Homo sapiens: one gene and its partner. The protein of the gene in region 2 purifies or fractionates together with the protein of the main gene of each other region. This does not show direct contact. Each region holds a gene or a part of one and is shown on either strand. Other genes may lie near its edges.

The links. The genes of interacting proteins can lie anywhere in the genome.
Region 1: the proteins of DBX2 (region 2) and ZC3H4 purify together in Homo sapiens (affinity purification with mass spectrometry; one large-scale study listed by BioGRID and IntAct). This does not show direct contact.

Annotation. Positions count from the first base shown.
Region 1 is NC_000019.10:47,066,232-47,069,814, reverse strand, and holds part of ZC3H4 (zinc finger CCCH domain-containing protein 4), read left to right. Parts: intron 1-471; coding exon 472-723; intron 724-1,945; coding exon 1,946-3,459; 3' UTR 3,460-3,583. UniProt on the Homo sapiens protein: RNA-binding protein that suppresses transcription of long non-coding RNAs (lncRNAs). LncRNAs are defined as transcripts more than 200 nucleotides that are not translated into protein.
Region 2 is NC_000012.12:45,033,032-45,038,607, reverse strand, and holds part of DBX2 (homeobox protein DBX2), read left to right. Parts: intron 1-2,493; coding exon 2,494-2,589; intron 2,590-3,362; exon of another isoform or gene 3,363-3,565; intron 3,566-5,576.

The DNA.
Region 1 (3,583 bases), on a different chromosome or scaffold from region 2:
CTTTTAGTGTTGAACATGGTCGAGTTCACTATGAGATGCATGGTGTTTCCTTACTGATTGTTAGAAAGAAACCGTGCAACTCCTATCCATCCAAAATAATTTAAAAGTACAGGAAAGAGTACAGAAATCCCTGGCCTCTCCAGAATCTGTGTTCCAGAGGGACTGTTTCTGTGTGTCTTTTCAAAGCTTTCTCCTTGCGTCTTACAAACGTACATCCAATGTTCCATCCTGTTTCCACCTCATAAGCGTTTGCCCGCATCACTCAACCCTCTCTGTGAACCTCATTCTTCATGTAGGCGGGGCTACCCATGGGCCGCTCTGTTCCCCTGAGACCTGGGGAGGGCAGGCAGGGGCAGGCTGTGCGTCCTTCTCCATCGCCATCGGTGTGGGTTTGCAGTGAGGGGCAGGGGGGCTGGAGTTGGCACCTGGAGGCCCTTCCCGACATGAACCCTCGGTTCTTCCCTGCCACAGAGGACTACGGGCACTACGAAGAGCTGCCAGGGGAGCCTGGGGAGCACCTCTTCCCTGAGCACCCTCTGGAGCCCGACAGCTTCTCTGAGGGAGGGCCCCCAGGCCGGCCGAAGCCAGGCGCCGGTGTCCCTGACTTCCTGCCCTCAGCCCAGAGGGCCCTGTACCTGAGGATCCAGCAGAAGCAGCAGGAGGAGGAGGAGAGAGCGAGGAGGCTGGCTGAGAGCAGCAAGCAGGACCGGGAGAATGAGGAAGGCACGTGTCCGCCCCAGGGGCCGGGGCACAGGCCCCAGGCCGCTGTGCAGGGGAGCGGCGGTGGTGGGGTGTTCCAGGTTGGGTTTCCTGTCAGGAAGGAGCCCATGGCTAGGGAGGACCCCTGTCCAGGGCCATGAAGCCGGGCTGGGGCTGCTGCATGTCCCTGAGAAAACTGGCAGTCAGGGGTGGCTTTCTGTGTTGGGTTCAGGAGAGACCCTGATCCCATGGAGTAGGATGGAGGGCTAGTTCCTGGAGGAGACAGTGGCCAACAGGATTGACCGCCTGTGCCCTGCCAGAGGAGGCTTTAGGGAGACCCTCACAGCCCCTGTTTTCCTACCGTGTTCTCAAGGAGCCAACAAACAAGAGCTAGTCATTGAAATTAACCAGTAATAATCATAGTCACGAGCCACCGAGTCTCAGTTGCTGCATGGTTGACTTAGTGGTGTCCACTTTGGGGTAAAATGACAAGTGGTGTCTAGATCCTGAAGCCAGAGGCCACAGGTGGCCCTGACTGTAGCGCAGGAGCCAGTGGGACAGCAGGAGGAGGGGCCGCTCCCCTGATGGCCCAGGCTGTACTGGCCTAGGTTTTGCTTGAGCCCATGTCTGAGTCTGCCCAGCCGGCCCTGCCTCTTATCAGCTGGTGACTGCGGTTGGTCCACACCAGCCCCTCCCTGGGACATGGGGACATCACGAGCCGGTTTGGGGTCAAGTGTCTCTGAGCCCCAGGCCCAGCCAGAACTGAGTCAATGGTGTCTGCTACCAGGACCTCCAGAAAGAGGTGCCCACAGCTGGACTTGCCACAGTGGGGGCTGAACCAGCCCGGAGGTGGGCGGGAGGAAACAGCAGAGCTCTGGGTTAGGAGTCCTAGCCCGATCCTGGCCCTGACTCCAATGTAACGGCACTGTGCTTCTGTTTTCACATCTGTCAAATGGGCATGATAGTATCACTACCTCCTGGGGTGGTTGTGAGTTATTTAAATAAAACAAACTACTTAGTGCAGTGCCGCCACTGAGGAGAGCTGGGGAGCATGGCATAAACCGAGCGCCTTAGCTCTCTGGGTCTCCTCAGCCGCCCACTGTGGGGAGGGAGCCTTAGAGAGGAGGACCTGAGGTTCTGAGAGGCACAAGCAAAGGAGCTGCTCACGGTGGGCTGCTGTGGGATCCAAGAGGGCGGGTGGTGGATGCGCCCACTCACCCCTCCCTGCTCCTCTGTTCTTTCCCAGGTGACACCGGAAACTGGTACTCAAGTGATGAGGATGAGGGTGGAAGCAGTGTCACCTCCATCCTGAAGACCTTGAGGCAGCAGACGTCCAGCCGACCCCCGGCTTCAGTTGGGGAGCTGAGCAGCAGTGGGCTGGGGGACCCCCGCCTCCAGAAGGGACACCCCACAGGAAGCCGGCTGGCTGACCCTCGCCTCAGCCGGGACCCCAGACTCACCCGCCATGTGGAGGCTTCTGGCGGGTCTGGCCCAGGTGATTCGGGACCCTCCGATCCTCGGCTGGCTCGCGCCCTGCCCACCTCCAAGCCCGAAGGCAGCCTTCATTCCAGCCCTGTGGGCCCCAGCAGTTCCAAGGGGTCTGGGCCGCCCCCAACGGAGGAGGAGGAAGGGGAGCGGGCCCTGCGGGAGAAGGCCGTGAACATTCCCCTGGACCCACTCCCCGGGCACCCTCTGCGGGACCCACGGTCACAGCTGCAGCAGTTCAGCCACATCAAGAAGGACGTGACCCTGAGCAAGCCCAGCTTCGCCCGCACCGTGCTCTGGAATCCCGAGGACCTGATCCCCCTACCCATCCCCAAGCAGGACGCAGTGCCCCCCGTGCCCGCGGCCCTGCAATCCATGCCCACCCTGGACCCCCGGCTGCACCGCGCTGCCACGGCAGGGCCCCCCAACGCCCGGCAGCGCCCGGGCGCCTCCACGGATTCCAGCACACAGGGCGCCAACCTCCCCGACTTTGAACTTCTGTCTCGCATCCTCAAGACAGTCAATGCCACCGGCTCCTCGGCCGCCCCCGGTTCCAGCGACAAACCCAGTGACCCCCGGGTGCGGAAGGCCCCCACCGACCCTCGGCTGCAGAAACCCACAGACTCTACGGCCTCCTCCCGGGCTGCCAAGCCCGGCCCTGCTGAGGCGCCCTCTCCCACCGCCAGCCCGAGTGGGGATGCCTCCCCACCAGCCACCGCTCCCTACGACCCCCGCGTGCTGGCGGCCGGTGGACTGGGCCAGGGCGGAGGGGGCGGGCAGAGCAGTGTGCTGAGCGGTATCAGCCTCTACGACCCGAGGACTCCCAACGCGGGGGGCAAAGCCACAGAGCCGGCTGCTGACACGGGTGCCCAGCCCAAGGGTGCTGAGGGCAATGGCAAGAGCTCGGCCTCCAAGGCTAAGGAGCCCCCGTTCGTCCGCAAGTCTGCCCTGGAACAGCCAGAGACAGGGAAGGCCGGTGCTGATGGGGGCACCCCCACGGACAGATACAACAGCTACAACCGGCCCCGGCCCAAGGCTGCTGCAGCCCCCGCTGCCACCACCGCCACCCCACCCCCCGAGGGTGCCCCACCCCAGCCCGGGGTGCACAACCTGCCCGTGCCCACCCTCTTCGGGACGGTGAAGCAGACACCCAAGACGGGCTCAGGAAGCCCATTTGCTGGGAACAGTCCGGCCCGCGAGGGTGAGCAGGATGCGGCATCCCTGAAGGATGTTTTTAAAGGCTTCGACCCCACGGCCTCCCCCTTTTGCCAGTAGTGTCCAGCCAGAGCTGCGGCTCCAGCCACCCTTCCTAGGGTGGCATTCAGGGCAGCACCCAGGGTAGGGAACTTGGGGGCAAGGGGAGGCAGGCTGGGTGTTCCTTTTTTCTTTTCTTTTTCTT
Region 2 (5,576 bases):
CCCTAGGGTTGGGATGAGAAACATTTTGGTTAGAATAGAAAAATTTGTAATATATATATGTATATATAAGGATGCAATATGTATGCAATATATACACACACACATATTGCATACATATTGCATCCTTATATTAATGATATCAGTAGTATGATCACATTTTCTATGCCCTAATTAAGCAAAAAACAAAACCAAAACCTTTTTTTTTGTTTTCTGTTTCCAGTTAACATGGTAAATGTTTAATTTTATGTCAGCAAATGTAACATTGCTGAGTCTTTTTTTTTCTTTTACCTCAAAAGACAACAACAATAACAACAAAAGTCCAAAACAAAACAGTGCAAGAGCCATCATTTTATTATTTATAGAATGTTTATCTTGGAGGGGAAATAAGTTAGCTAACAGAAATGCTTGAAAATAAACATAATTAGGCAACTTTTATATTTCTTCTTTCTGAAGTACTTCATATATCCATAGCAATAATGAAAATGTAAATCTGCATAAATAATGCCATACTCTTGTAACATACTTTAAGATGTAAAATTCAAATGAAATGATTTATAATTTCCATGACAGTTTTATAGTCAATATAAGAACAACTTATGATAACAATGAAACTTCAAAAAAATTTATAAAACTTTTTGAACATCAGAATTGGTTTCCTTTTTATGCCTTTGCTTAGCGGCCATATTTTCAAAACAGCATTAAAACAAACACTTGATTCTTTAAAAACCCAAGTATTTAAAAAAAACCTAAAAGCATTAATGTTAACAACTTCCCATTGTGTGCTAGGAAGAAAACTGCATTTATGATTAATTTGCAATTTTAAAGCACCCAGGACCCTGAAATGCTATAAAAATTCTTATTGGAAACTATACTTATTTTGATACATCCTTCAAAGAAATTGTGAAAATAAATATAAACAGCTCATCAGTTCGTTAAAATACAAGTCTGAAATTACTGTGTTCTTCAAAAAGGTATGTAGTCATATGGAAACAATATTCACGAATGTGATTAAGAAAAGGAAAGAAGTTGTCCCTTGAATATGAAAGAATAATAATAAAAATATTTATTTTCAAGTCATGTTTTAGATTTCAAGGTCATCAGTTATGAGAGACACCATGTTTTAGGATGGGTCAGGAAGCAGGGGAAGGATTAATTCTTGATCCTCATTCTTTCCCTAAGACCAGGGAAGTTTTCTGTTTGTTCATTTGGAAGACCATTTGTTCATTTACTAAAAAATTTTTTGACTGTTTAGAATGTGCTAGGCACTCTGTTGAATGTGTCATGGTATGGGCAAGTGCCCACTTTAGGCAATCTCCACCTACAGTTATATTGTATTAAACCTATTCTATGAAAGGACATGGTGTGTCTAAGGCACTTAACCAAAGCACAGCATACAGTAAGTGCTCAATAATGGAGAGTTATTATTCATGTTTTATCCTTTATAGCTGTTCTCATCTACTGAGGAAAGAGTTTAACTTAAAATGTTAAATTCAAAGGGGATGATTCATCATTTCTATGATGGTTTTATAGTCAAAATAATAGAACAACTTATACTAATGAGACTTCAAAAAATTTTATAGAAGTTTTTGGCCACCAAAATGGGTCTCTCTTTCATACTTTTGCACAGGAGTAATAATAAATAGTTCATGCATTTCTCCTGAAAACTTTATGAATAGATTATTTTAATAAAACTATGCAGAGCAGAATTACATGGCAACTCACTATACTAGAAACACATATATCTTCAGGGTGACTAGATTACTCTTGAGATAAAATGGGATTATTCTCAAATACTTTAAGTCATGTAAATGTGATCAGAAACACCACTTTTTGTTATGGAATTGCTCAGTAAATTTACTGTTACCAACTTTGGAATCCAACTAACTATATGTTTCAAAGAACCATCTGAAAATAAGCAAAGAGATATAAACTTTAAAAATTAAATGTAAGCACATAACATTTAAATCATTTCTTGGTAAGTAGGATATCTAGAGCTGTGCTATTTAATATAATCCCTAGTCGTATGAGTCTATTTAAATATAAGTGAATTTAGAGTAAATATGCAGTTATTCATTATACTAGCTACATTTTAAGTGTACAGTAGCTGTATGTGGGTAGCAGATACCATTTTGAACAATACAGACATAGACATTTCCAATCATCACAGATAGTTTTCTTGGACAGTGTTGTTCTAGGGTATTTTAAATAAAGGAATATTTGATGTTTACTATTTATAATGATGACCGCACAGAAAATGATCTAAGAAGCTTGGTGTTTCATAGTCTCTTTGCGTCTTTTCACTACCCCTCTCAAATCTTGATGAGATTATTTGGCATGCTCTTTGACAGACAAAGGCTACTTTATAATAACTTTAATTTCAATACAAATTAAAAAACTAAGCAAAGTATTTACTCAATGACTTTTAGGAAACTGGAGTTTTGAATATTGTCTTAAAGAAATGGCTAATCAATGAGATCAATGCTTTCTCTGCAGCACCTTCCAAACCTTTCCTTCTGAGCACCCCGCCATTCTACTCGGCGTGCTGCGGTGGGTCCTGTCGGCGCCCTGCATCCTCCACTGCTTTTCCAAGTAAGTTTTTATCCTTCATCAGCAATGCCTCAGTTATTCTGTAAACCAAAGCTGCAGGATTTAATGTGCTCTGGAAAACTAATTGGTAATGCAATGGCAAGGAGCTAATTCCTCACTAAAAGTCACAGCGATCTTATTCAAGAGGTTTCCAGAGATTTATCAAACCTCAGCACACTGAGCAATTGTGAGCAGTTCTAATGGCATTGAAACCCAGGGCCGACACATCACCGAAAGCAACTTGTTTTCCATTTGATATAAAAGATCTCGGAGGGACCAGTTTGGCTTTTCTGAAATGTGTAGCAACACTCCTTTAAAGAAGAGGAAAAAGGAAAGGAAGGAAGGCGAAAAATTGTGCTGTGTAAAATTTCCATTCCACTTAAAATGTAACACAGAAAGTCACTAAGTGTCTATGGAGAATAATTTAAAATTGTCAAGATCGTGAGAGGAGATAAATCTCTCCTTTTTGGCATCTTGAAGGTAACCAACCAGAACTGTTGGAAATATTTTCAAGAGAACTCTTCTCCCAACATTGTAAAAGCAACATTTTAGTAGAGTCTGGGGGTGGAGTGAGAATGACAGACTTTCAAAATCTCGCAGTGTGCACACACACACTCTCACACTCAAAGGAAAAATGCAGGCATAAAAGTAAAACTCCCCTTGGTCTTGAGATTTCTGGATTAGATGAGAACATCTAGGCAGGGAATTTGAGTTTATGGTAAAGAGGTCCAGTGGAAGGGTGCATTTCTTTCAGTTGCCCAAGAGAAAACACTTACTCAGCTTAACAGCTCTGTCAGGTGAAAAGTGAAATTAAGAGTTGAGTCAGGCTCTTGTGCCGAACCCCATCACGGTTGAATTCAGATCGCTGCTGCCTCTGTGCATGTGTTTTGGGAATGGTTCAGGAAAGCAGTTGCTCGACAGAATAATTCCTGACAAGTGAGGCAGCAAATGCTGGCCGTTTAATGAGCTGCAGGCTCTAAGCATCTCTTTAGGGGGCTGATACTTTCCCACAGAGCACTTTACATGGCTGGGGCCTGGCCACAATGGGTGACAGACCCGTGACCAATCGTCACTTTCACTCGACTCATCCACACGCGACCTCACCACGATTTTTCACTCTGCAGATGAACTTTAGGAACCATTTCACATGGAAAAGGCTTGGGCAAGGGTCAGTTGCCCTTTTGTATGGTCATAAAGCAAGGCTCTGTGTGTCAGTCTTTTCTCCTGTCTCACATTCCAAGTGAATTTCTGGACACCATTTAAAGCACTTGACTGAAAAATAAAGCAGTAAATGAAACTGACTTTTATAGACTCATTCTAGCTCATCTTCCCATATAACCCTGTCTACCTGAAAAGGGATTTAGTGGATGAGCTGAGTGTATACAGGGACTTGCTGAATACATAGGGCCCATTATCAACTGTGGGGATTCTTTATTAACCGGGACTGATACACTACTATTTTGGAAGTGACCTATTAATTGTCCATTTAACTAGAATGTATTGAATTCAAACAGCAAAATAGAAACCATGACTAAACCTTTTACTCGCTCCTTCAAGGTGGTCTCCTGTGAGGGCAATTGAAAACTCTTGTGCAAATTAAGGAGACATTTATCACCATATATTAGAGTATCAGGAAAAGACTTCTGGAGTAGAGACCTAAAACCCAAATATCTGATACCGTATCATGATGGCATCGCTGTGGAATTAAGTCTTCAGTGTTAGATTTCGGGAGTGGAGATCAAAAGAGGTCCCACACTTAGCTTCAGTTATTTCATCATGATATGATACTGGGTTTTTACTTCAGAAAATCTCTGGCAGTCCAGGTAAGTGGAAATGGACAAAAAATTCCATGTAATAGGTGGACAGACATTCATGTGCGTGTGTGTGTGTGTGGGTGTGGGTGTGTGTGTGTACTTATTTTATAGGGACGTTTGAAGAGTCTCAAGCCATCAAAGTTTGGGCCAGTTTACTAGATAGAAAAGAAAGGTTGGGTCAGTTCAGTAAATAGAGCATGTAAAAGTAATGCTAAAGATGTTTTCTAGATGACTTTATCTTCTCTGCTGCTTGAGAAATTACTTTAAGCAGGTCTTATTTTTCTCCATCTGCTTCCCAGTCCTTTCTACTTTGTGCCTTTTGCATAATTCTTGTAAATTATAGTGTTTATCCCTGGAGGTTTATGAAGTCCTGTGTTTATCTTTTTCTTAAAAATAAATATAGAAGCTGAAAATCAGTACAGCTCTAATCAAGGATAGAAAATGATGCACTTGGTTTGGCTTCATTTCTAAAGTTGGCATTTTAAAACAGTTTAGAGATCCCACAGGTGATTTTAATAAATGATAGTTTCTCATATTATTAGTTATAACTCTAAAATGAATTTCATATATTCTTATTTATAATGTTCATTTGTATTAACAGCAAATAATAACATGGTAGAATTAAGCTGTCAATAAAGAATTTTACATAAATAACCAGGATACCAAGGTACAGTTAATAAGGTTTACATCTGTACAATAATCTTCTTTAATTTAAGGCATTTACTAGATTTTCTTTTTTTCTCCTTTTTCTAATAATAAGAATGATTTTTATGCCCAGGTCTTTGTATTATTTAACATTGTACAAGCAAAGGAAAATGTACTGTCCAAATAAACTTGCATTAAGTTTCAGCTCAGACAGCCAAAATTAGGTTTATATTAAAAAGTTTAATAACTGATTAAATCAATGGCCCTCATCATTGTTTCACAATATTGCTTCACTCTTTCCAAAGAGTAGGATCAGACCAGCACATTTTTAACTACGCGAGTGAAGTATAATTTTGACTCTTAACCTGATTCATTTATTTAATATTGATTTAGTTTTTCTTGTTAACTTCTTAGATTTACGACTGACTTCCCATTGCAATGTGGTAACAATCATTCATTCAATGGCCTTCTCACATATAGTAAATAGTTTAATAGGCTATTTAAGCACAACGCTTACAGTGGGGAAAAATT